Homo sapiens: one gene and its partners. The protein of the gene in region 1 interacts with the protein of each later gene in a pairwise test. Each region holds a gene or a part of one and is shown on either strand. Other genes may lie near its edges.

Evidence for each region.
Region 2: the proteins of BSND (region 1) and CSGALNACT2 interact in binary tests that used the Homo sapiens proteins (3 or more experiments, as listed by UniProt).
Region 3: the proteins of BSND (region 1) and CERT1 interact in binary tests that used the Homo sapiens proteins (3 or more experiments, as listed by UniProt).
Region 4: the proteins of BSND (region 1) and THAP4 interact in binary tests that used the Homo sapiens proteins (3 or more experiments, as listed by UniProt).

Annotation. Positions count from the first base shown.
Region 1 is NC_000001.11:55,008,933-55,015,932, reverse strand, and holds part of BSND (barttin), read right to left. Parts: 3' UTR 1-7,000.
Region 2 is NC_000010.11:43,141,445-43,148,480, reverse strand, and holds part of CSGALNACT2 (chondroitin sulfate N-acetylgalactosaminyltransferase 2), read right to left. Parts: intron 1-7,036. UniProt on the Homo sapiens protein: Transfers 1,4-N-acetylgalactosamine (GalNAc) from UDP-GalNAc to the non-reducing end of glucuronic acid (GlcUA). Required for addition of the first GalNAc to the core tetrasaccharide linker and for elongation of chondroitin chains.
Region 3 is NC_000005.10:75,508,615-75,515,772, forward strand, and holds the start of CERT1 (ceramide transfer protein), read right to left. Parts: upstream 3,016-7,158; 5' UTR 2,892-3,015; coding exon of another isoform or gene 2,594-2,891; coding exon 2,498-2,593; intron 2,456-2,497; exon of another isoform or gene 2,160-2,455; intron 1-2,159. UniProt on the Homo sapiens protein: Shelters ceramides and diacylglycerol lipids inside its START domain and mediates the intracellular trafficking of ceramides and diacylglycerol lipids in a non-vesicular manner.
Region 4 is NC_000002.12:241,599,151-241,606,186, forward strand, and holds part of THAP4 (peroxynitrite isomerase THAP4), read right to left. Parts: intron 3,930-7,036; coding exon 3,820-3,929; intron 2,850-3,819; coding exon 2,746-2,849; coding exon of another isoform or gene 2,665-2,745; intron 1-2,664. UniProt on the Homo sapiens protein: Heme-binding protein able to scavenge peroxynitrite and to protect free L-tyrosine against peroxynitrite-mediated nitration, by acting as a peroxynitrite isomerase that converts peroxynitrite to nitrate.

The DNA of each region.
Region 1 (7,000 bases):
CGCCCAAGCTGTTCTCCCTCCCTGCTCTTCCCTAGCGAATCCTTCAGGACATAGCTTGGTGGGAGTTCCTCTCTGAGAAGCTCCTGCCGACTCTCCAGGTGGGGTCAGATCCCCGCCGTGCTTCCCTCTGCTCAGCACTGACCTGTCACTGTTCACTCTGCAGTTAGCCCGGGGTAGTAGAGGTTCCCCCAAGACAAGCATGGGTCAGATGCATGTCTCTTCCCCCAGTACCTAGCACAGGGGGTGGCACAAAGCAGGTGCATAGTGTTTGTGGTTAGAATAAATGAATAAGTGAACAAATGAATGAACACATGACTAGATAAAATCTAGCCCTCCTTACCCCCAGGCTTGCTGATCTGATCCCCAAAGCCTGGTCTCATCCACCTACCCACCACACCGTGTCTGCTCTTCTCCGGGATGTGCAGGGACTATCTGCAGAATCACCAGTGGGGCCCATTTTCTGACCTGGGGACTTCCTGAGTCACTGGGGCCCTCATTTGCCCTTGTCCTGGGTCATCTGTGAACTGAGCACTGCCTTGGCCAGGGCCCTGGTGTCTTGGCGGGAAGCAACAGCCTCTGCCACAGGGTTCCCTGCCCTGCTCTGCTGGATTTGTGGTCAGCAAGGAGGAATCCAGGACACCGGCTCTGCAAGCTTCAGTCCTGACCTGGCATCCACCCAGTGACATGAGTGGAAAAAACCTTTCACAGGGCAGGTTGAGAATGAAATCCCTGCCGCAGGGCACAAACCAGCCTTCTTGCCACCAATACGTGCCACCTTTCCCTTTTGTATCTGTTAGTATATGACCTGAATGTTTCTTTCATGTCACTCCTCTGCTCAAGAATCATCAATTAATCCCCCTTGCCCATCAGAACAAATCTGAGCTCCGTGGCAGGAATTCAAGAAGCCCCATGGCCAAGCTGCGGCCTCCCTCTCTGACCCTGTCCTCCACCACTCCAGCCAGGACAGTCTCCTTCTTCCTCCTTCCTTCCCCCAAGGCTTTGCCTATGCCATGCCCTCTGCCTGAGATACCCTCACTCCTTCATTCTACTGTTTTAAGTCCTGGCTTGCAACTCCCACCTCTTCTGGGTTGCCTACCAGCTATCCAATGTTTGATAACTCATTTAAGAAAAACAAACAACTAAGCCCTTCAGCACTTAAGAATCACCAGGCTTGCTTATGCAAAACCCAGGCCATCCCAGACTTTTCTGAGGATGGTTCTAGGACACTAGATTTTTAAAGTTTCCCAGGAGAGTCTGATGCCACCAGCCCAGCTGGGTCCATTGACAGGCACTTGGAAGCACTGACGATACAAAGCTCGAATTATACATGTGCTTGGATGACACAGTGCTTGTAGGCTTGAACGACCCAGGTGCACATGGGCACCTGATGTCTACACATTGTAACATCATCTCTGCAGGCAACACTAACAATGATAACTGACTTTACTGGGGGCTCACCAGGTGCTAGGCACATGCTACACTCAATATGCATGATCTCATCCAATCTTCACAACATGCCTATTGGGTCGATATCACTAACCTCAATTTATTAATAAGGAAATTGAGGGCCAGAGAGGCTAAGTCTCCTGGCCAAAGTCACAGAGCTGGCCAGTAGGGAAGCCTAGTCTCAAACCCAGCGCTGTTTACTCCAAAGCTGGTGCTCCTCAGCCCTGGGCTAGGAGTCCATGCCCCTGGGCCATGAGCCTTCAGAGTGGGCACCCGGTTCGGTTCAATTCTGTTCCACCAGCACTACTGTTCCTTGCTTTTGCTAAGTCCTGGGGATAGAAGTATTGGCGGGGAAGAGGCCCCTGTCCTTGAAGGACCTCCCAGTCCATGTGGGGAGACTGGTACTCACACAGCTAGTCATTCAGAAGTGCTGGGGACAGAGCGGGGCACACAGTTTAGGAGGGATTCGGAGGAGAGGGTGCAGTGGAGATGGATTCCACCGTGGAAGGGGAGAGCAGGGCTAATTCAGGCTCCAGGGAACAGGTAGGGTTTGAGGGATGACAGAGAAGGGGATGAAGGGCACCTGGGTGGAGGGAACAGCATGAGCCAAGGCAGGGTGGCTGGAAAGGTGAGGATGCCGGGGCTGCTGCACGGGAGCACATGGCAGATGATTCAGCTGGATGGGGCAGTTGGGGCCAGATCATGAAGGGCCTCAAATGCCAGCCTGAGGAATCTGAATTTTATCTTGTGGGCAATAGGCAGTCATGGAAGATGTTGCAGGGGGGTGTCTCCCTCCACACTAGCACAGGGAGATGCTCAGTGGAACCTTGCTGCCTGACTTATTGATACTGATTTTTCTCCTGTCCCACTAGGGTCAGAATGGCCTGGGGCTACTGGATGATTCCTGGCAGGAACAGAAAGCCCTGCAGCTCTACCTCCTCTCCTCCATTTAGCTCTTCTCCGCAAGGATGGGCAAATTATTCAGCTTCTCTGAGCCTCAGTTCCTCATCTATAAAATGGGGACAGCTGGGTGCAGTGACTCACACCTGTAATGCCAGCACTTTGGGAGGCTGAGGCGGGTAGATCATCTGAGGTCAGGGGTACAAGACCAGCCTGGCCAACATGATGAAACCTCATCTCTATTAAAAATACAAAATTAGCTGGGTGTGGTGGCAGGCGCCTGTAATCCTAGCTACTTGGGAGGCTGAGGCAGGAGAATCACTTGAACCCGGGAGGTGGAGGTTGCAGCAAGCTGAGATTGCGCCATTGCACTCTAGCCTGGGCAACAAGCGCAACACTCCATCTCAAAATAAATAAATAAATACATAAAAATAAAATGGGGACAATACACCAACCTTGCAAGCTGCGAGGATGAAATGAAGAAAAGTGTGCACAGCACAACAGGTGCATTGTTGAGTCTTATGACGTGGACCAGGTGGCATCGTGGGAAGAGCACAGGCTCAGAGGACCTATGTTTGAATATCAGTTTCTCCCCTGGTAATACCCATCTCTCAGGGCAGATGGAAAAATTAAATTCAATGAAATGATTTATGGGAAGCACCTGACACTCAGCAGCTGCCTGGAACCCTGTTTGACACCTGTCTGACAGCACAAGCAATCCTGCTCCTCCTCCAAGCTTCCAGGGTGCTGCCTCTCTCACTCAGCATGCTGCTCCCCTCCTGCCCCACAGGAGGCATTTTATACACCTTAGTCCCTGCACTTGCTGTTGGCTCACCTGCCTCTCAGCACTGGGCACACAGACTTTCTTTACCCCTTGCAAGAAGCTTTTACATGCATCTTCCTCCTGGTGAATGCACTCACCTATTGTTTTATTTATAGGCAGGACAGTGGCTCCCTGATGCATAGATGAGGGAAGAGACCCAGAGAGGGAAGAAGACCACCACTGTCTAAGCACCTAAATGTGCCTGAGGCATTATACCCAGTTCTTCTCCACAAAAGCCCAAGAGGGAGGTATTATCCTCCCCACTGCATAAATGTGGACATTGAGGCTCTGAGAGGGGCTGTGACTTGTCCAAGGCCACACAGCAAGGAACTGGCTGAGGCTGAAGGTAAAACCAGGTCTTTCTGATTCTGGAGCCTGGGATTTATAACAAACATTTGCAATGTGGGGTCGACAGATCGGTCCCCCAGGGCTGTTTCACGGACTAGATAGGGTAATAGGGGTGACGGTGTCTTGCATGGTGACAGGCACACAGTGCTCAGGGACTGGGAGCAGAAGTGGAATCTTGCCCACCCTCACCCAATTTTACAGAGAATAGAGGAGCCCAGGGAGGGCTGTGATGTACCCAAGGTCATGGCGAGCGGTCGGCAGAGCCCAGGTTCCCTGCCCCTGGGCCCCCTGCCTTCCCTTGCCCACCCTTTCCAGTTAAGGGCAGGGGCCATCCCTCCAGGGCCTTTCCCTCTCCAGAGGGTGGAAACTTCCAGAGTCCCTCCAACCTGACAGGAGAGTGACCAAGAGCAGGAATTTTCACCCTGGCACACACACCTGGAGCCTGGAGCTGAACGCTAGAATCCCAGGCTTTGCCACCCCAAAAGGCCCCTCCTGACCCTTTCAGAGCCTCCCAGCCTTCTCCCCAGGACCTTCACCAGCACCTTGCCCCTCTCCCAGTGGAGAGGGGGTGCCCCAGAGGCTCTGATGCTCTTAGAGGGGACTGCAAGTTGGCAAGGCCAGGGGCATGAAGCACAGTGTTTTATGATTTTATTTTATCCTAGATAAGGTTGAAGAAGACACCCAGTCATAGAATGAGCCCCGCCTCCTGACAGCAGCCGGTTCAGAGCAAAGGCCTGCTTCTTAAACCCTCGCCAAGCCACTGAGCACTGGCCCAAATCCAGTAACAAGTCCTTTCTAATACCTCTTTCAGAGACTCCCCCTGGTTCGCTGTGGTGTTCATTCCCCCTTACTGCAAGAAGAAACCCAGCTTGTTAACCACAGGTGAGGTGTGCTCCCAGTGGTCTTTGGCTGCAGGGCATTGACAAGATAGGTCCCATCAAACACCCCCATCACTTCCAAGATTCCAAGATATGCGCACTTCATCTGTCATTTGCACATGAGAAAGCTGAGGGCTACGGAGGCAACCAGACTTGTCAAAGGTCACAGAGTAGGTAAGGTAACATTGTATCATCCAAATGAGGTATCTTCGAGCGTGAAAGGGGCCTCCTAATAACTTAGCAGAGGCAGTCGGTGTCAACCGGGACCTTCCTGGGCAGATCAGGTGTGTGGTCTCCCCATCATGCAGCAAGAGCCAGGGAGACCAAGCCTGGGTCTCACCATCTCACTCCACTACCCCAAGCCCCCTGCAGATGCTAACTCTAGAACAGGGTTACCATCTTCCTGCTGGCAGGCCCAGCAACCAGAGGCTCTTGTTTAAGTCTAAAGCCACTGCGGTTGTGGTTCAGGGGTGTGGGGAATCACTCCTGAGATTCAGCACCACACAGCACACCCCACGGTCATGCCACTGCAGTGAGGGCTTACTTCCGGAAGAGGGCCTCTGGTGCCCGTCAGGCGTAAGGCCTCACGTATCCTGCCCCGAGGGAAGGGGTGGTTTTAAAGAAAAGAATTTGCAGGTGAATGAAGATGACCCCTTTAAATGTTGAAAGTAGTTTTATTTTAGCCCTTAGTGCTGACGCTGTTTCTAACGTGGGTTGTAGGCTGCCCTGCCTTAGGCAACAGAGCACAGGAGCATGCTACCCCTCACCTCATCCGAAGACTCAGCTGTGACCAGGAACTCCTGTCCTGAGTCATGACAGCAGAGAGGGTGTACCCTGTGGCATCCTTCACTGCAGAGGCAGAAATGACCCAGAAAGAAAAGGAAGTGTGTTCCCAGGGCCATGACCTTGTAACCCAGCACACAGGGGCATCTCCTTCCCTAGGCCAGGACCCCCGGCCTCAACCCGGAAGCCCTTCCCTAGGCCGGGAACCCCAGCCTCAACCCAGAACCCCATAGCCCAGGTGAAGGTCTCTGACTCCCAGGTGGCCCAGGGTGCAGGCTCTGAGGGCGTGGTCCTGGTTTGAGGTAGTGTTACTGCCATTTTCTCTGCAGCTGCCAGGATCCTGGGCTGGGGCACAGGCAAGCGTTGCAGGGATCAGCGTAACAATAGCATCACCCTGAGATGGTTCAATAGGGTACAGTGATGTCTTCAGGGGCTGCAAAGACAGCTTGAGCTATTTCCCCACCATACTCAACTGCCCCAAACAGCTGGGAGGCTGTCACTCTTCTGCCTCTGGTGTGTCCATTTTTTACTTCTCTGTTCCCACCTCAGCTTCTGCTCTGCACTCACAGAAATCAAGCTCACTAGATTGTGAGCCCTCTGAAGGCAAGCACGGTGTCAGTAGTTCATGTCTCTTTACCCCTAGAGATCACAGCTCAATATCTGGCATATAGTAGATGCTCACTAAATGCCATCCAATTCCAATTGTTTTGTTTTGAGGCAGGGTCTCACTCTGTCACCCAGGCCGGAGTGCAGTGGTGCGATCTCGGCTCACTGCAACTTCCATCTCCTGTGCTTAAGCTATCCTCCAGCTCAGCCTCCCAAGTAGCTGAGACTACAGGTGTGCACCACCACGCCCAGCTAATTTTTGTAGTTTTAGTAGAGATAGGGTTTCGCTATGTTGCCCAGGCTGCTCTCCAACTCCTGGCCTCAAGTGATCCACCCACTTTAGCCTCCCAAAATGCTCAGATTACAGGCATGAGCCACCGCACCTGGCTAGCCAACTGATTCAAACTGAAGTAGGCCAGGAAGATGAATTTCACCTACAATTCCAAGTCAAAGCAAATGTATTCCAGAGGCAGGGGTGGGGGGTGGTGTTCCTCTGGGGGCTTTTTGCCTGCTTTGTGAATACATACAGGCCATTTAGAAGTTTGAATGCTGGGAAGTAAGAGGGCTGTGAGTCTAAAAGTTGGGAACGTGGGGGAGAGTGATTTTATCTGCAACAGGTTCCTGGGTCCTGGTGAGTTCTGTACACCCTTGATGACCACCGATTCTGGGCCAGGCCAAAGGCCCATCTGGGCACAGGCGATCTCAAGGTGAGTAAAGTCAAGATGCTGCCCTTCAACGGGAGGCAGGCAGCCATGCCACACTGACAAATATACAGGTCCCAAAGGCAGCGCAGAGAGGCAAGACCACCTGGTTCCAGGAGGCAGCGACATCAGGAAAACCTTTCCAAGGGAGGTCATCTGTGTAGGGGTTTGAAGGGTGAGCACGAATTTGCCAAGCTGAAAAGGGAGCCAAGGGCATCCTGGTGGAGGAGAACAGCTTGGGCAAGAGTGTGAGCCGCAAGATGGGCAGGGGGGCTAGGCTTGGAACTGGAGGAGCAGAGAGAATGAGGTCAGCAGGGGTCAGTCACAGAAGGTTTTGGGTCCTGGCCAAGGAGCGATGGGAGCTGCAGGAGGAATGTGGCCCAGGAGGAGATGAGGCTCCCTCTGTGTAAAGACGGATCACGCCATCTACCAAGTGGACTATAAGACACAATAGGAATGGGAAACCTGACTGGCCTTCACAAAGGATCAGGGGCCCAGAGGGAGCACCAAGGAAG
Region 2 (7,036 bases), on another chromosome or scaffold:
TCCCCAATTAATGTACAGATTAAACACAATCCTCTTCAAGAATCCCAGTGGACTTCTTGCAGAAATTGGCAAGCTGATCTTAAAATTTATACAAATTCAAGAAACCCAGAATAACCCAAATAATATTGAACAAGAAAAATGAAATTGAAGGAAAACACTTCCCAATTCCAAAAATTACTACAGAGCCCCAGGTAATTAAGACAATGTGGTATGGCATAGAAATAGACATATAGTCAATGGAATGGAACTTAAAGCCCAAAAATAAATCATCACATTTATGGTTAGTTGATTTTCAACAAGAATAGCAAGGCAGTTCAATGGGAGAAAGAATAGTTTTTTCAATAAATAGTACTGGGACAACTGGATATTTACAGGCAAAAGAATGAAACTAGACTCCTACTTCACACCACATTCAAAAATTATCTCAAAATGGGTCAAATATCTGAATATAAGAGTCAAAACTAGAAAACTCTTAGAACAAAACCTATGTGTAAATATTTGTGACCTTGGATCAGGCAACAGCTTCTTAGATATGACACCAAAGACAAAACAAATATTAACTGGACCTCATCAAAATAAAAAAACTTGTGTTGCAAAGGACATCAACAAGAAAGTGAAGAAATAACCCATACAATTAGAGAACATTTGTAAATCATTTGTCTGTCTTACTTTAAAAAGCAAAAAAAAAAAAAAAAAAAGATAACTCGACAAGCAAAAGATCTGAACAGACATTTCTCTAAAGAAGATATATAAATGGCCTATATAAATACATGAAAAGATGCTCAACACCATTAGCCAAAAAGGAAATGCAAATCAAAAGCACAATTAGATACCACTCCACATCCACTAGCATGTAATTCAAGGTGAATCATAGACCTAAATGGAAAAAAACCAAAAGCAAGCATAGGATAAAATCTTTGTCACTCTGAGTTAGGCAAAGATTTCTTAGATATGATATTCAATAGCATAAATGATAAATTGAATTTCATCAAAATTAGCAATCTGTGCTCTTTCAAAGACATTGTTAAGAGAATGAGAAGACAAGTGATGGACCTGGAGAAAATATGGGCAAAGCATGCGTCTTATAAAGGACTTGTACCAAGAATATATTTTAAAATGATCAAAATGAAATAATAACAAACACAACTCAATTAAAATGTGGGAAAAGGCCTGAACCCTTCAAATAAACACTTGAAAAAGATGCTCGGCCGGGCGCGGTGGCTCACGCCTGTAATCCCAGCACTTTGGGAGGCCGAGGCGGGCGGATCACGAGGTCAGGAGATCGAGACCATCCCGGCTAAAACGGTGAAACCCCGTCTCTACTAAAAATACAAAAAATTAGCCGGGCGTAGTGGCGGGCGCCTGTAGTCCCAGCTACTTGGGAGGCTGAGGCAGGAGAATGGCGTGAACCCGGGAGGCGGAGCTTGCAGTGAGCCGAGATCCCGCCACTGCACTCCAGCCTGGGCGACAGAGCGAGACTCCCGTCTCCACAAAAAAAAAAAAAAAAAAAAAAAAAAGATGCTCAACATTGTTAGTCATTAGGGAAATGCAAATCAAACCATAATAAGACACCACTACACAGAAGGGCTAAAAATAGAATGGCTAACATTAAAAAGAATGACCATACCAAGTGTTGTTAACGTGGAAGGACTAGAACTTTCATACACTGCTGATGGGAATATAAAATAGTTTTGTTAATAAGTTATGAACTTAACAAGTTAGATTATTTTCTTATTAAAAAAAAAAAAAAGACAGCATCTTGCTCTGTTACCAGAGCTGTAGCGCAGTGCCTCTATCATATTATAGCTCAATGTAGCCTAACTCCTGGGCTCAAGTGATCCTCCTGCCTCAGCTTCCCGAGTATCTGGGGCTACAAGTGGGAGCCACTACACCTGGTGGGATGGCTAATATTGAGTGTCAACTTGACTGAACTGAAGGATACAAAGTATTGTTCATGGGTGTGTCTGTGAGGGTGTTGCCAAAGGAAATTAACATTTGAGTCAGTGGACTGGGAGGGGTAGACCCACACTCAATCTGGTTGGGCACCATCTACTCAGCTGCCAGCGGGGGTAGAATAAAGCAGGCAGGAGAAGATGGAAGGGCTGACTTGCTGAGTCTTATGGACTTCATCTTTCTCCCATGCTGGATGCTTCCTGACCTAGAACATCAGACTCCAAGTTCTTTAGCTTTTGGACTCTTGGACTTACACCAGTGGTTTTCCAGGGGCTCTTGGGCCTTTGGCTGCACAGACTGAAGGCTGCACTGTTAGCTTCCCTACTTTTGGGACTCGTACTGATCCACCACTGGCTTCCTTGCTCCTCAACTTGCTGATGACCTATCATGGGACTTCACCTTGTGATGGTGTGAGTCAATTCTCCTTAATAAACTCCCTTTCATATATACATATATCCTCTTAGTTCTGTCCCTCTAGAGAACCCAGACTAATACACTTGGCTAATTAAAAAAAAATCTTTTTTTAGAGAGAGAGTCTTGCTATGTAGTCCAGGCCAAGTTTCTTAATAAGTGAGTAAGCCTACTCATATGATCCAGCCATTCCATTCCTAGATATTTACCTAAAAGAAATGAAAGCACATATTCATACTATTAAAATAAGATGGAGACCAGGTCTGTAAATCCCCTGGACAAAGCCAGTTAAGCCATTAAAACAACCTTGACCTTGCAAATATAAGCAATAGAAGCAAAACTTAATTTGGGCTGTTTGCAAATGTAAACTTTGGTTATTTTTTGTCTGTGCCTATATTAAAGAAAAATCAGGCTGGGCATGGTGGCTCATGCCTGTAAGCACCTTGGGAGGTTGAAGCAGGAGGATCACTTGAGGCCAGAATTTGAGATCAGCCTGGGCAATATAGCTAGCGAGACCTTGCCTCTATAAGAAATTAAAAAATTAGCCAGGCGTGGCGATGCATGTCTGTAGTTCATGTTGCCCTGGTTACTTGAGAGGCTGAGGTGGGAGGATCACTTGAGCCCAGGAGTTCAAAGCTGCAGTGAGCTACGATCGCACCAAAGCACTCTAGCCCTGTCTCTTAAAAAAAAAAAAAAAAAAAAAAAAGAAACAAACAAACTTAGGCTACGCCAATTAGAAGCCATCAACTAACTTACATAACTAGGGACTTTCCAATAGGATGGACTAAACAAGGCAACTATATAAATATAATTAATCAAATATTTTCTTTGCCTTGTTTCCTTGTTCATCCTATAGAAGTCTTCCACTTGCATTCCTTTGGTGGAGTCCCAAATCACTTTTGATTTGTTGCTGTCTGATTCATGAATTGCTGTTTGCTCAGACAAAACTCTTTAAAATTTTATTCTGCCTCAGTTTATACTTTAACAATACCAAAACTTGTACACAAATGTTCATAGCAGCTTCTAGGTGTAGAGCCCAAAACCAGAAACAACCCAGGGTCCACCAACAGGTGAATGGACAAACTGTAGTAAAACAGATACACAATGGAACACTGCTTAGCAATAAAAAGGAATAAACTCTGACACATGCTTCACCATGGATAAATATCAACAATTACTCTGAGTAATAGGAGCCAGGCAACAGAAGTACTTACTATATGATTCTATTTATATAAAATTTTAGAAAATGCAAGGTAATTTGTAGTTAACTGAAAGTAAATCAGTCAATGATTGCCTGTGGGAGGTGGTACCAGGAAGGAATTATAAAAAGGGGTGAAAAAACTTTTGGGAGTAATGGATTTGCTCATTACTTTGGTTGCAGTGATGATTTCACAGGTGTATACATATGTTAAAACTTATCAAATTGCACACTTTAAATATGTGGTTTATTTTATGTCAATTATACCTCAATGAAGCTGTTTAAAAAATAAAGCCAAGTCAGATTCAGTAGCAGTGCCAAAAAGGCATTTGTAAAACAACAACAAAAAAAAACCCCTCCAGTTTGTTTACTGAAGTATAAAGATTTGTTGATTATGAATTTGCATTTAAAAAACAAAACTAAGCCCCTCATCTCCCCAAAAATAGAGTACTACATATTTACATATTCCTTTAAAGGTCTTACCATATCTTTTCTCCTTGCCTTGTGACTTGGAGACAACAGAAGTGTTAAAGATAGTTAATGCTACAGCACTGGTCCCTTACATAATAATAAGACCCTTAAGGAGTTTTTACTCAATCTTGATTATACACAATTTTTGGTACTATGAACACAAATGTTATGCATCATTTCCAGGACATGTACATTGCATGCAGTATGTCAAGCTAACTTGGAAGACTAATCTACTGCCCTCTGAAAGATATAATCCATTTGAGTGTATTATAAAACATATTCTGTATAATCTTCCTAAATTTTCTGCACAGAACAATTTCTCATTAAGGTTTTCAAAAACTAAATTTATAATTTTGAGTTCATTTTTTACAAAGCAAAAACAAAGCCACACAATTATTTGGAAAACATAACCAGTCAGAAAACTAAAGCATTATGAAGTGTAAATATCTAGGAAGGAGGAGATCAGAATGTTTCATTTCTTGATAAGTTCTTGATTACTTGATAAGTATTACAGTGATGCATGGGTTGTCAACATGTTATTGAATAAGTGGTCTGTAAGTACTGATCATCTGAAAGCAGCACTTTTTCAACAAATACTTGATTACCTACTGTGTGTCAGGCACTGTGCTGAGTACCAAGGACAAGTAATATCAAATGGATCCTTTTAACAGCGTGTTTCTGGAGAAAACTATAATCATGGTACCTGGATTTCAGCAAGACAAAGGAGAAAAATGTGCCAAACTGTGGCACAGCAAAAACCAGTTAAAGAGTCAAGTGTAACAGCTACTTAATAGCTATGTAATCTTGGGCATAACACTTCACCTCTCAGGGCCTCCTCTCAAAAATGAGGCAGTTTTGCCTGAACAGTCAATGTTCCTTCCAAGATATTATGATTCCTTTATTATGATTCCACACACACACACACACACACACACACACACACACACACACACATTTTTGGAGAGCAAACTTGATTTAAATGCACAGGCCGTTTAATCCAGCAATTCACAATTCCACTTTCCTGATTCTATACTACAGAAGTATCCATACTACTATATAAAGTCACATACATAGGATGTTTATCAGTGTTACACGTAACAGCAAAATAAAATTATAAGCAACTTAATGTTCATCAATAGAGGAAAGGTTAAATTAACTGAAGACATTTATACAACAGAATATTTTAAAGGAATTAGGTACATCTTTATGTGCTGATGTAGATAGTACCTACAAAATGGTGTTACCATGTTGCAAATATTTTTTCTCAGTTTGTCTTGTCCACAATAGGCTTGGGAGCCAGATGGCCTGAATTCAAAGATCTGCATCATGGTTTTCTACTCTTCATTACAGACAAATTCCATAATATATGTAAACTTCAGTTTCCTCCTCTGTTAAGTGGGAATAATTACAGAACCTACCTTAGAGTATAATTATAACACTTATTCAAGTAAAACATGACAAGCATAAGTGCTCAGTAACTGTTAGATATTATTTCCTATTAAGCAAAGTTTTGTTGGTGGTGGTGGTGGTGGTAATAGACTCAAATCTATCAATCTTTTCCTATTTCTTGATTTTAGCTTCCCTACCTGAAGTAATCCTAATAAAAGTAATTTTTCCCTCAAATAGATAGCTAATTCTTGCCATTTACCATGCAATCCATGCTCTTGTCACTAGTTTGAAATGCCATCTTTATCATTAGCAAAATTCCTATATATGCATAAGTCCATTTCTGACCTCTAAACCAGGAATCAGCAAATATTTTAGGTCAGACAGTAAATGTCACAACCAGTTGATTCTGCCTTTGCAGCACAAAAGCAGTCACAGATGATATGTAAGTGAATGAGTATAGTTGTGTTCCAAGGGACACTGAAATTTGAACTTCATATAATTTTCATGGGTCATGAAGCATTATTTTCTTTTTCTCCCCAAAGCATTAGAAAGTATAGGGCTGGGCACGGTGGCTCATGCGTGTAATCCCAGCACTTTGGGAGGCTGAGGCAGGCAGATCACGAGGTCAGGAGTTCAAGACCAGCCTGAGGAACACGGTGAAACCCCGTCTCTACTAAAAATTAGCCGGGCATGGTGGCATGCACCTGTAATCCCAGCTACTCAGGAAGCCGAGGCAGGAGAATCACTTGAACCCAGGAAACAGAGGTTGCAGTGAGCCAAGATCACGCCACTGCACTCCAGCCTGGGCAACAGAGTGAGACTCTGTCTCAAAAATAAATAAATAAATAAATAAACAAATAAATAAATACAAAATAAAAAAAATAAAAAGTGTAAAAGCCAGTCTTAGATCACAGGCTATACTAAAACAGGCAGCCAGCCATACTGGCAACCCCTGCTTTAACTTCTAAAAAATTTTTACACTTTAAAAATTTCACAAAATAAATACATGTGATAAAAAGGTTAAACAACATATAAGGGCACACAACCCCAATCCCTTCTGTGAGCTGGTAGGGAAGAAGAGTGGGGAACAGTCAGCAAACCTAACACATCTTTCCATAAGCTCTCAGAAAAGGCATACTTCTTGTTCGTCCCCACTGTACAGACAAAGAAACAGACCAGAGAGGGAAGGGTTGATCTATATTTGCCAGTCCTTTGTCCTCTGATACTTATTTCTCCCTGGCTCAGGATGCCCAAGACTGTGCCTGGACACTCCTACCTTCGCGATCTCTGTTATCTCTGTGGTTATTTCTTCTTTTCCTATTTCTAATGCCTCCTGGAACTCCTATTAGATGTATATTGACTCTTCTAGATCTACTTTGCATGTCATGGGTAGTCTTTCCCACTTTCTTTTTTTTTTTTTTTTTTTTTTTTTTTGAGACAGTTTCACTGTCAGCCAGGCTGAAGTGCAGTGGCAGCCTCCACTGCCTGAACAGCTGGGACGACAGGTGTGCACTACCATACTGCTAATTTTAAAAATGATTTGTGGCCAGGTGCGGTGGCTCACGCCTGTAATCCCAACACTTTGGGAGGCTGAGGCAGGTGGATCATGAGGTC
Region 3 (7,158 bases), on another chromosome or scaffold:
TAGACACTGCAGGGGAATCAAATATTACTGTGGCCAACAGGCCAGCAGACACAAACTCAAGAGAAAAAAATATATATTTAGAATAAGAGTCAGAAGCAAGCTACAAACAAAATGCTATGGGAATTCAAGTGAAGGAGGTCTTGAATGATGGCAAAATAAGAAAAGGCTTTATGGAAAGGACAGTATTTGGCTTGGACTCTTAAGGATGGACAGAATTTCAAACAGTTTGGTGTGTGGAAAAACAGAAGGTAAACCATGAAGGATGGAGGAAATTCAGAAATTGAATGAGATTATTTTATCCAGGCTTAGGTGCTCTCAAGTCCTACTAAGGCATGCATCTTTTCCCCACCATGATCCATCACGATACTTGCTATAACTAGATAGAATTATTGTCTATCTAGTATTTTTGGAATCTATACACTTAAGTGATTTATAAGAAATATGCTTCATAGGTATTTCCATGTATTTCAGATTACCATATGGAAAATACCCTTTGAACTGGTATATTTCTAATATAAATTTACCCAAGCCCATTCCAAATCCACCCCATTTTGGGGGAGAAACAAAATGAATTGTACCGGGACTTATTTACATTACTCAATGGAAGGAAAAGAACAAAATCCGAGTTCTGACCTTTGTTTAAATTACCAGGTGAATACAAAGAATTCAAACTATATAATTTACATTTAAAAACATCTACCATACTCAGTATGAGTATATATACTCAATTTAGAATACCCTTGATTAAAAAGCTTCCAGAAAACTGTATATAACCATAAATTGGTAAATCTCAGGAAAATTTCCTTCATAGCTTTGAGCAAGAATACCAAAAGCTTTATTCCTATTCATTCTACATATGCAGCAACAGTCAAAATTTAAGCTATTCACCTTCCATAGAGGTGATCAAATACATTTGTATGCATTTAAATATCGAGATTGGTCTTCCATTTTTTTATCTATAGTATACCTACTCCAGAGCACTGGTTACTTTTTCCCCCGGTCACTCCACTCCCCCAACCCCCAAAAAAGTAATTATCAGTAGGTCAAAAGTACAATTTGTTTCGTAAAATACTTAACACATCACAATACTAATATGGCAGTCAGCTTCCCATCTTATGAGCAGTGATGAAACTACCAAAATCACTGAGAAGCAAGTAACCCACTTCCTATTACCAACTGAAAATGTATACCTACTACACAATGTGTTCAATAGAGATTCCTAAATTACAGGATACATTTAATCTAAAGAAATCCTGAGGAGCTTCTCGTTACTGAAAACCTTGCACTGAAATTTCAAGAATGATCACAGCATCAATATACAACATAATTTTGCTGCTATACAAATAAAAGTCAACACTTGCAATCCTTAGTTCTGACTACTCATGCCTTTCCTGGCCCCCTTCTCATTAGCTTTCTAGACATTATAAAAGCCTAATATGAAACAATTCCACAAATAATGTCCAAGTGATTTGCCAAATATGAATACTGGAAACAGGGTGATTTCTTAATAGCCACTGGCTGCACATGACATAGTATCTTATGACCAGCTTGTTGAGGGACTGGCCCAGCTCCCCCTCTCCAAGTTAACTGCTAGCTCCAGCCATGTCTAAAAAAGTTTAACAGGAAGGGAGAGAGAAGTCAAAAAGGCTACGTGAATCTTCTTACAGCAAAAACTTAAAAAAAAAATCCCCACAACTATGTAATATCAAGAGATCATCCACCTGCAGTCCTATAATGACTGCTTTGCTAAAATTTTGATACAGGGATTTTAAAAAATATATAAAAGATAAAACATCTTTTCCTTACCCTCGACCCCTTACCGCAAAAATATTTTATTATTAAGTAATGCTCTTCCTGGACTAAAGATCAGTCTCCATTCTCACATGTTCCAAGTTACTATGAATATTTCCTGTACCCATCATGTGCCGATTCAATATCTCTATTCTGAACTAAGGTACAGGGTGAGGGAGAAAGTCCTCCACATTCATCTGTCTCACTACATCTAACCTAGCAGAATTCAACACCTCAAATTTCAACACCAAGCTGAGTCGCTCCAGCTTCTGTCGAAAGAGTTGCGTCCGCAGTGCCCCCCAACCTACTCGGCTTGGCATCCTCAGAGAGACCAACCTCTTTTAAGAGGTCCGACTTGAACCGCTCCCATGCCCAGTCGTTCGGACACCGCTGAAGCCCAACCCGGATTCCTTACACCCGGGACAGCTGCCGCCCTAAGTCCCAAGTCACGGCGCGCATCTGGCCTCCCAAACTGGATCTCAGGTTTATACACCCTTTCCCTGGTCCTCGGCTGCCCCCGACGAGCCCCCGGGCAACAAGGACAGTGCCCCTATATCCCCGCCTCATCCCTAGTCGCTGCAGCAACACTCAGCCTCGCACCCCGGCACGTTCCGCGCCTCCCGCCAGCCCCACCCCACCGCCTCAGCGGATTGCCTCGCTGCAGGTGAGTCTGGCCAGGGGTCCCTTGGCACCAGGGGTTGCTCACCTTACTGAGGACCCCGCAGCGCTCCACAGGCGGCCCAGACTCCGTCTCTGGATCCTCCTCCGAGCCCGACGAGTTCCAGCTCTGATTATCCGACATGGAGGCTCGACAACCGAGCAGGAGACCGGCCCCCGCTCCCTCAGCTGCGCCGGAGGAGGCGCCCAGTCCTCGGGGTGAAGGGTCGGGGGATGGCGAAGCGAAGAGTGCCCGCTCCGGTGTGGGGGGGAGCAGGAGGAGGGACGAAGTCCGCCCGCCGCGCCGCCGCCGCGCCTGACACCGAGCGGAGCGAGGAAGGAGGACGAGCGGTGAAGGAAGCCTACCCTTCCAGCCGTCAGCCGCCGCCGCCGTCGCCGTGACCCCTGCGTTGCGCCCGGCGCTGCCACCCGAACTTAGCCCCCTCGATGCCAATTTCAAATAGGGAAGGAAAAGGGAAAAGAAGGGAAGAGAAAATCCGGCCGCTGAGTCCCGCGTCCACTCACACCTCCGCTACCGCCGCCATCTTCCTGCCTGGCCCACTATTTACCCTCCCCTCCCCTGTCCTTTCCCCTCCCCTTCGTCCTCCCATTCTCCCCCACTACTCCCCGCCCCGTCCCCCTCCCGGCGTCTGACGCGACACGCCGAGCCTTCGGGATCCTCCTCCCGAACCCTACCTCCGGCTCTCCCGGGTGACGACGGGTAGAAAAGCAGGAGGAGCGGAGAAAGGAGAGGGCGGGGTAGGGATGCAGCTGTGCTGCATTCTGGGAAGGGCGTTGGTCCGTCGCTCGCGCAGCCTCCTGGGAGTTGTAGTCGCGATCCTGAGGTAACGGGTGAGTATCCCGCGCGGGGATCGCTTGTCCCCTTGGGGCCTTGTCAGTCGGTGGGTGGGCTTCGTTTGACAGTTGCGTGACCAGCCCCTCGGCCTCGCTTCTATCCTTGCCTTGTGTGTTTATGACGAACCCTCCGGGCTTGCGGGCCCAGACGTGAGAGAGCTTTCCGCTGAAGATGACGGGCCTGCTTTCCAGGGCGGCTTGTCGAAAGCCCGGGAGCATCTGGCCGCTTCCGCCTCAACCATGGGCTGGGGTTTTGTGAGCTACTAGTGCCAAGGGTTTTCTTTCCACCAGACCACCGCTGTAAATCTCGAGGGTCTTACTCATTAGAAGTTAGAATTCACATTTGACGTTTAAAGGAAGAATTTCCTTAGTACCTTCTCACAAGCACGCACTTCGCATTTTTAGATTTCTAGAGTTTGCTTTGTAGAAAGTAATTTTGAGGTTGTCAGAGAATAAATGACGTTAGAAAGGTTTTTAAAGTAAAACAAGAATGTGAGATGATAGCCTGGGATTTTCTCTTGGTTGTAAATGAATATCTTACTGAGAACCACGTTAACCATGCCTGCCCCTCAAAGATAGGAAAGGTTGGATATATAGAAACTTTCTCGTATTAGAAATACCGAAGTGCAGTGGTTTTGTGTGTACAAGGGATTAGGCAATAGGAGGCTATTTTTGTTTTAAGACTAGGGTTGAATTAGCAGAAAGACCAATAGAAGATCTAACAACTCTTGTCAGTTGTCAAGGATAACTTTGATTATGAGACTTTGACTTTGTAGCTTCAGTAATTTCCTCTCGTTAGCTATTTTAATATAGTCGATTTCCTTGTAATTGCCAAGAGTAAAATTTGTTATTAAACCTTAGAAAGAGTACTTTCTTACTACAAGGATGGGACGATAGGAGCGAAATTTCGAGTCTAAGGGAAAACGCTGGCCGAGTGTGGTGGCTCACGCCTGTAATCCCAGCACTTCGGGAGGCCGAGGTGGGTGGATCACCTGAGGCCGGGAGTTTGAGACCAGCCTGGGCAACAAGGTAAAACCCCGTCTCTACTAAAAATACAAAGATTAGCCGAGCATGGTGGTAGGTGCCTGTAACTCCAGCTCTTTATATCCTGGTTTCAAATCTAGGCTTGATGACCTTCTCCCATATCCCAGTATCATATTTTTTTCTTCCTGCATGGGGGATTAATTACGATTCTGAATGGTTGGTAGCATGAAGCTAGGTTATCCCTATCGTGGCAATGGATATTTAAGTAGGCATTGCCAATATTTATCTTGCTTTCTTTTACTTTCTTCTTTTTCTGACCATCCACACTCCATTTATATTGATGAGTTCTTTTACTAATATCAATTATTATTATATTATGCTCATACTGCCATGTCTTATTCTGCAGCTTTGATCCTTAAGGTGACTTTGCATATCTGTCTAGGACTCCTTTATCTGTTGATTTTTACCATTTAAGTCTCCAAAGACAGCTGTATTTTTGGAAAAGTGGGAGGGAAGAGGTAGATGGGGATACTCATTGATACCTTAATGCACTTCACAGCTGCTTGAGAATATGTCAGATCTCATAAAAAGTTCTAACATTCGAGAATAAGACAGTGATTTCAGAAATGGAATTTCAAAGGGTGTGTAGGCCACCCTTTTTATCCTGTTTCCTATTGTAGAAATGAGAGCCAGGCTAGGAATGTTTCAAGCAGAAATATTCTTACTATTCAATGAAATTGAAAATGTATTCCCATATCTTTTACTCCTATCTGTTTGGTTTATGGGATAAAAACTTGTTAGAGTAGTTGGTATTTCATAGGCTTCACTATAACATTGGAAAATCTTTTAGTCTAAAAAGCACACAGTACGGTACACCAATGAACAGTATTAGTGCCCACTCTTGGCATGTACACATGTTCTTTCTGTCGTTTTTATTTTGCTTAGCTTTTGAGTCTCTTCCTGTTACTGTGAGAAATTCTTTTATTAATATTTTAAAGGCATACTATATAAAGCAGTGTGGTGGTATATTAGGTATCAGTAGAATCCTCTTGATAGTTATTTAGTAAACGTGTTTTGCTTCCTGTTTTTTTCTAACCTTTTTATTGTTTCACTTCTACTATAATTTCACATCCTTTTCTTCTTAGTCAAATAAGTTGAAAAAATATATTTTTATAGAACATGTTGCTATGGTGATAGTTTATGAAAATATACTTTATCCCTGTTTAAGATCTTTATTAAGATCTTGCTATATGATAATCTGACTGGGGTGCTATAAAAGTAAGATATAAACCACTTCTTCTGTAGATTCATTGTTTTCTAGCATTTTTCTGTCTAGGTATTCTGACAATAATTATGTGTAGAGAGTGAATAAATATTTAAAATTGTGTGTGACATAGGAGGTTTTCAGTAAATAATAACTGATGAATGAAATAAGTTTAACTTGGTTGATGATTGAAGAGAAGTTGTGGGAACTGCAATTAACAAGGCCCAAGAAAAAAATCACTAACATGATTAAAATTGGTCAGACACCAAAGAACCAAATAACATCATAGCCTTTTGTAAGTAGCAATTATCATTTGCCAAAGGCCTACAAAATGTCAAACATTGTTTTAGGTTCATTTGATTTATTCGCTCTTCACAAAAATCCTGCAAGGTAGACATTATTCTTACTTTACATATGAGGAAATTAACATTCAAAGAAGTTAATTGCCCAGATCATCGCTAGTGAATAGTCTAGTCCAGACTTTGGACCTTAGGCGCTTGCAATACATAACTTTTAATACATATAGAATTGATTTTAGATTTTAGAAAAGTCACTCAGGCATAATGGCACATATCTGTAGTCCTAGCTGCTCAGGGTGCTGAGGTGGCAGGCTAGCTTGACCCCAGAGGTTTGAGGCTGTAGTGAGCTGTGATCATGCCAGTGCACTCCAGTGTAGGTGACAAAGTGAGACCCTGTCTCAAAAAAAAAAAAATTCCAAAAAACTATTATCCCAAATTTTTTAAATGATTAAACATTTGAGAATCTGTCAGAGCCAGATAGATTACATTCTAGGTGTGTTACATAGTTTTTCTTTAGTTTAACAGTTTTCTTAAAAGAAAATTCATCCACATGCATTTTTAAGGTGCAGTAACATATAGCCAGTTTACAGCTCTTTTCTTGCTAGTGTACACTAGCAAATATATGTTCCAATTACGCATAAATAATTTAAATGATCTCTGGAGCCTCTTGCAACTATCCCCTTGTCTTGTGTTGCTACTAAAAGGAAAAACGTATTGATTTAACCTTTGGTATTATCAGGAAAAATAGTCATTGTCATTTACTATCATTTTATTTTTTGTATTTTTGGTCATTTTATGAATAGTCCTGAGAAGCAGCAATAAAGGGATAGTGGAAAAACAACTTTATTAGAAATTATAATAAAAATAAAAACATAGCAAACCCAAATTTTTATTCCATATATTCTTGAAATAGGGAGGCCTCAAGCAATCCTCCTGCCTTGGCCTCCCAAAGTGTTGAGATTTGATGTGAGCCAACATGCCAGGCCCAATATTCTTTTTTTATGGCTAAATTCCATTGTGTATATAGACCACATCTTCTTTATCCATTCATCCATTGATGGTTGATTCCATATTTTAGCTATTGTGAATAGTGCTGTAATAAACGTGTGAGTGCAGATATCTCTTCAATGTATTGATTTCCCTTTTGGATATATACGTAGTAGTAGAATTGCTAGATCATACAGTAGTTGTATTTTAAGTTTTCTGAGGAACCTCCATACTGTATTCCATAGTGACTGTACTAATTTACATTCCCACCAACAGTGTAGCAGGGTTCCCCTTTCTCCACATCCTTGCCACCATCCATTA
Region 4 (7,036 bases), on another chromosome or scaffold:
CTGAGGCATGAGAATCGCTTGAACTCAGGAGGCGGAGGTTGCAGTGAGCTGAGATCGTGCCACTGCATTCCAGCCTGGGCAACAGATTGAGACTCTGTCTCAAAAAAAAAAAAAAGCTACCTTCTTATCTACCAGTAAGTAATCTACAGTGAGCATCTTACAGGTGGTGACACACAGAACTATTTCCACTAGAGTCAGGGACAAGCATGCAACAAACATTCACGCCTGTTGTTCTATCCATGCTGTGCCTAAGATCCTGGCTGTCTGAAAGTTACACCAGTGGCCCAGTTCAACACAGAGAAATCAGAAGTGTCCACACAATTATCAATAATCAATCTGAAGATTAAATGGGAAAAAATCTATTTACAAGCAACAAAAATGATAAAACACTTGAGTTTACCCTAACATGAAATGTACAAGACCTGTATAATTAAAACTATAAAGAAATAAAGCTTTTCTATATACTAAAATACACAAAACATGACCTAAAGTCACCGTAATACACTGTCACGCTGCATATTGCTACCCATGAAAATATGTCAATTCTACCCAAATTCATTCATGTATTCAATGCAGTCTTGATGTACATTTTATAAGCCTTGAGATGTTTATTCAAAAGTTCATCTAGAAGAGGAAATGCTTAAGAATGAGTAAGAAAATTTGGAGAAAAAATGTGGGAAACGTTCCCTTAGACATTAACATGTAATATACAGCTGTGAGAGCTAAAAATGTGTTACTGGTAAGGAAGTGGACAAGCAGACGAAGAAAGACAAACGAGGCTGGGCACAGTGGCTCATGCCTGTAATCCCAGCACTTGGGAGGCTGAGGCAGGCGGATCACTTGAGGTCAGGAGTTTGTGACCAGCCTGGTCAACATGGCTACTAAAAATACAAAAATTAGCTGGGCATGGTGGCACATGCCTGTAATCCCAGCTACTCGGGAGGCTGAGGCAGGAGAATCACCTGAACCCGAGAGGTGGAGGCTACAGTGAGCTGAGATTGTGCCACTGCACTCCAGCCTGGGCAACAGAGCAAGACTCCTTCTCAAAAAAAGGAAAAAAGAAAAAAAGAAACAGACCCCTATATTTATGTGGATGTGCTTTAATGTATGTATGACATTCCAAATCTGTGGAGTCAGGATGGAATTCGATGAATGGTGTTGGGACTACTGGGTCACTCATCTGGAAGAGTTAGAATTATACGCTGCGTCACTCAAAAAACAAATGTGAGAGAGATTAAAGGTCTAGGTGGTAATGTAAAAAGGAAAGCTGTAAGAATACAAGAAATGAAAGAACAGGCTGGGCGCGGTGGCTCACGCCTGTAATCCTAGCACTTTGGGAGGCCGAGGCAGGTGGATCACAAGGTCAGGAGATCGAGACCATCCTGGCTAACACAGCGAAACCCCGTCTCTACTAAAAACACAAAAAAATGATCTGGGTGTGGTGGCGGGCACCTGTAGTCCCAGCTACTCGGGAGGCTGAGGCAGGAGAATGGCGTGAACCCAGGAGGCAGAACATGCAGTGAGCCGAGATTGCTCCACTGCACTCCAGCCTGGGTGACAGAGTGAGACTCCGTCTCAAAAAAAAAAAAAAAAAGAAAGAAAATGAGAGAATATTTTTATCATTTTGGAGTGGACAACAACTTCCTTAGCAAGAACCCAAATCCAGACATTGTAAAGGAAACAGCCCAGAGGCAACAACAGGAAAGCTGAGCACCTGTGGGGCACAGCCCATCATGGACCAGGCCACAGACTAGGGAAGTATGTGTCACAAATAAAGCAGACAACAGATTAACCCATGGCATACAGAAAGCTCCTACAAATCTTTAAAAAAAAAAAAGGACAATCTGGCCGGGCACGGTTGTTCATACCTGTAATCCCAGCACTTTGGGAGGCTGAGGCGGGTGGATCACCTGAAGTCAGGAATTCAAGACCAGCCTGACCAACATGGAGAAACCCTGTCTCTACTAATAATACAAAATTAGCCAGGCGTGGTGGCGCATGCCTGTAATCCCAGCTACCCAGGAGGCCGAGGCAGGAGAATCGCTTGAACCTGAGAGGCGGTGGTTGCGATGAGCCGAGATCCCACCTTTGCATTCCAGCCTGGGCAACAGAGCGAAACTCCGCCTCAAAAAAGAACAATCCACAGAAAAACAGGCAAAGACTTTAAATATCAAGTGCACAGAATAAGAAGCGTAAACAGCCAGTGAGCATGGGGAATGAGCCCTCCTGCTTCTAAGTTAGATTCAAAACATGAGTGAGATTTCATCTTTTATTTCTCAGATTTGAAAGGACCGAAATTCTGAAAATACACCATGTTGTTAAGGAGTAGGGAACCAGCTGCCCTCATGCAAGAGATAGTGGGAGGATAATCATGAAGAAATACAATCTAACAGTGTGTATCAAATTTAAAATGTACCTGTCCTTTGATCCAGCAATTTAACTGGGAAAAATTTATCAATAGATATGGATATATCTGTAAACGTGGACAACCCAAATGCAAAAGGATGTTTGTGACAAACAACAAACCTCAAAAAAACCACACCACTGACCAGCCGAGGAGGGGGCAATGAATTTAGGGAACATCCACCCTGGATGGTCCGAGAAGGGAAAAGAAGGAGACAGTGAAGACAGGCCTGTGAGACACAGTGGCAAGACACGCACTACCTCACGGAAGAGGAAGAGGCTGACTCCACAGACCGCTGCAAACAGAAGACAGGAGCGTGCTGGGAGCAGGGCTGGGCTCACCTGCTCTACGTGGGGCTCCTTGGCGAAGGAGATCCTGGCGATGGAGTGGGATGCGATGCACAGCTCCTGCCCGTTCACCTCGCCCTCCTCCACTTCCACCACGCCTGCAAGGGAAGGGCAGTCAGCTCACCCAGCAGCTGCTCGGCTTGCAGAGAGGCAGCCTTGACTCTCCTTGCCTGCAAGCCGGGACTCCACAGGAGGCCCCAACTCTGCAGCTGTGGAAGCAACGATATTTCTCCTCCTCCCCACTTCACCCTGTGGATACGGAGGGAAAGCCACAACTCTCCTCACAGAACAGGCAGGTGCTCTATGGAAGGCCACCCTCTCCAGACTGGGCCCCAGCCCTCCCACCTCCACCCACCAATCAGCCTGGCAGAACCACCCCTAGCACATACAGTGGCAGAAGTCGCAGGTGGGAATGGACGTCCAGGAAGAAACACTGATCTAGAGTCACGCAGGCTGGTTTTTTTTTTTTTCTTTTTTTTTTGAGACAGAATCTCGCTCTGTTGCCCAGGCTGGAGTGCAGTGGCGCATTCTTGGCTCACCGCAACCTCTGCCTCCCAGGTTCAAGTGATTCTCCTGCCTCAGCCTCCCAAGTGGCTTGGGATTACAGGCATGCACCACCACACCCAGCTAATTTTTGTATTTTTAGTAGAGACGGGATTTCAGTATGTTGGCCAGGCTGGTCTTGAACTCCTGACCTCAAGTGATCTGCCCACCTAGGCCTCCCAAAGTGCTGGGATTACAGGCGTGAGCCACTGTGCCCAACCTGTTTTCCAGCAATTCCTAATGAATGCACACAGCTGATGGCCATTTCTGCAGACGTGGCACTGGGTAAACGGGCCCTCATGGTCAGGGGGCTGCACGCACACAACCTGTGTGCCGGAGGCCCCTACAGCTACACAGTCGGCCCCGCAGGCTCCCAGGACCACTCTCAACACTCAGGGCCATCCCCACGGTCCCCACCAGCACATGCCTCAGCAGGGTTGCACATGGGCATCCCTGCACCCCTGCTTCGAATGCAGGCAGCAGCCTCCCATGGCCAGCCCTCCCGCCCCGCAAGCTGGGCCTCACCTGTGTTCTGGGCGCTGACAAAGGCCACCTTGTTGGTGTCGGGCTTGAGGCGAATGAAGCCACACTCTCTGTGCATCGGCTTGCGCGTGTCCGGGTGGAAGGAGTTGAACCTGGACGGGAAGTTGGAGTTGAGAAGCCCAGGCACTGGCCTCCAAGATGGCGTGGGCTGCGTGGATGCCAGAACTGTCCAGGGTGCCCTCCAGGTGGCTGCTCCAGCCACACCCGCACACCTGTCTGCCCCTACCACCACCTTGCTCATTTTGGCTGTGTCTGTCTTACCTGCTGACCCTCCACTCCTGAAGACGGGCTGTTCCAGCCACGCCCACACACCTGCCCGCCCCCTCCACCACCTTGCTCATTTTGGCTGTGTCTGTCTTGCCTGCTGACCCTCAGCTCCTGAAGACGGGCTGTTCCAGCCACACCCGCACACCTGCCCGCCCCCTCCAGCGCCTTGCTCATTTTGGCTGTGTCTGTCTTACCTGCTGACCCTCAGCTCCTGAAGACGGGCTGTTCCAGCCACACCCGCACACCTGCCCGCCCCCTCCACCACCTTGCTCATTTTGGCTGTGTCTGTCTTGCCTGCTGACCCTCAGCTCCTGAAGACAGCACTGTTCTTAATCACCTCAGGGCATATCCTTGCCCTGGGCCCGTTAGCCCAGGCCTCACACAGTGTCAGCCCTCAGCACTCCCTTGCAGTAAACCTCACCCTAACACAATCTTTCTCTTTTGAGCTATGCTCTTGTGTAAGAATCTAATCAATTCCTACGGTAAAAAACAGAACAGGTGCTGAGTTATGGTATGGTTTCTTATCACCCTTCATCATTAGTGCAAATTCTCAACAGTAAAAGACAGGCACCTGCATCTTGAACTGAGGGCACAAAACCACGGCTTAAAAACTAACTCGCTGGCATGGTGACTCAAGGCCGTAATCCCAGCACTTCAGGGGCCCAGTCGGGTAGATCTCTTGAGCCTAGGAATTTGAGACAGGGCTGGGCAACACAGACCCTGTTTCTACAAAAATAAAAACAAAAAAACCAAACCAAAAAAAAAAAAGCCTCATTTATCATTTCACCAACCTTATGAGTTTCTATAGGGAATCCATCTCTATGATTCTTAGAGATAAACTTTATTTATTTATTTTTTTGCTCTGTCACCCAGGCTCGTCGCGGTCTCAGCTCAGTGAAACCTCCGCTTCCTGGGTTGAAATGATTCTCCTGTCTCAGCCTCCTGAGTAGCTGGGATTACAGGCGCCCACCACACCCGGCTAATTTATTTATTTATTTATTTATTTATTTTTTGAGACAGAGTTTCTCTCTTGTTGCCCAGGCTGGAGTGCAATGGCGCTATCTTGGCTCACTGCAACCTCCGCCTCCTGAGTTCAAGCGATTCTCCTGCCTCAGCCTTACCGAGTAGCTGGGATTACAGGCATGCGCCACCATGCCCGGCTAATTTTGTAATTTTAGTAGAGACCAGGTTTCTCCATGTTGGTCAGGCTGATCTTGAACTCCCAACCTCAGGTGATCTGCCCACCTCAGCCTCTCAAAGTGCTGGGATTACAGGTGTGAGCCACTGTGCCCAGCCACACACCCGGCTAATTTTTGTATTTTTGTATTTTTTTTTAGTAGAGACACAATTTCACCACATTGGCCAGGCTGGTCTCGAACTCTTGACTTCTAGTGATCCACCTGCCTTGACCTCCCAAAGTGCTGGGATTACAGGCGTCAGCCACCGCACCTGGCCAAGATAAACTTATTTATTTATTAAAACAAATTTTTTTAGGGTCTCACTGTGTTGCCCAGGCTGGTCTTGGACTCCTGGACTCAAGTGATCCACCCGCCTTGGCCTCCCAAAGTGCTGGGATTACAGGCACGAGCCACCGCGCTGGGCCAAGATAAATTTCTGTTGGGCTAGTGATGGTGCTACACCTTCTAGAATGGTACATGCTCACTAACATAACCCCGACAAAGAAATACATTTATACCATATTCTAGGACACACACACAAACACACATACCATCACATTTACTGAAATATATTTTCCACTCTGGTTCATTTTTCTTCGAATGCTAGTCACAAAATTGACTTTCTGACCTTTTCGTGGGTTATAATCTATAGTTTAAAAAAGACTGCTTGGGTTCTGGGTTATTTTGTATTACCCAGAATTCTCACCTTTTGGTTTATGTGCAGATGTATTACTTTGACCTCATGCATTCAATCAATAATAATATAAAAAGGTAGGAGATATTTTTAAAAACAATGAGATCTTCTAAAAGGGGATGGAGGGTCTCAGAGCTGGGGGTCTGAGAGCCAGGTGCCCAGCCCCGTTCTGAAACTGCTAGGCATTATACAAATAGTACCAAGTTGGTTTAATAAGATTCTTAACATATAGTTGTGTAATGGAGACTAAGGGAGGGTTTGCTTTTTATATTTTGTTTAAACTTTAAAAAAACTGTGTATTACTTCTATAATTAAAAAATAAAGATACTTCAACCACTCCCCATCCCTGGTGGCTCTCCTCTACTTCAGAGGCCTACACTGCTATCTCCCTAAAAGCAGGCAATTTCTCCACCTGTGGGGAGCAGGTGGTGGGAAGGGATACTGAGGGACCTCAAGGGGCTTTTGCTTTCTTGTACGGTAAGAATATGAGAACCACATACTAACAGCTTCCTTGTGACCCCAAATAGCTCAGGGGTACGTGTAAAATACAAACATGCACTATTATTTTCAGTAATATTGGGTGACTAATTTTTTTCTTTTTTTTTTTGAGACAGGTTCTCACTCTGTCACCCAGGCTGGAGTACAGTGTTATGATCACAGCTCACTGTAGCCTTGGCCCTCCCTGGGTTCAAGCAATCCTCCCACCTCAGTTTCTCGAGTAGCTGGGACTACAGGCATGTGTCACCACACCTGGCTAAATACTTTTCAGTAGAGACAAGGTCTCACTATGTTGCCCAGGCTGGTCTTCAATTCCTAAGCTCAAGCAATCCTCCTGACTCAGCCTCTAAAGTGCTGGGATTACAGGTATGAGCTACCGCACTGGCCAGGGTGATTAATTTTGATACATAAATTAAGTACATGCATTTGTTTTTATGTTTGGATTAACAAGCCTGTAATTTGGTGGTCAGCTTAATATCTCCAAAAATATAACAGAACCAGAAAGTATCATTTTTACCACTCTGTGTCTCAGTTGCACATTCAGGCAAGAGGACACCTTTCT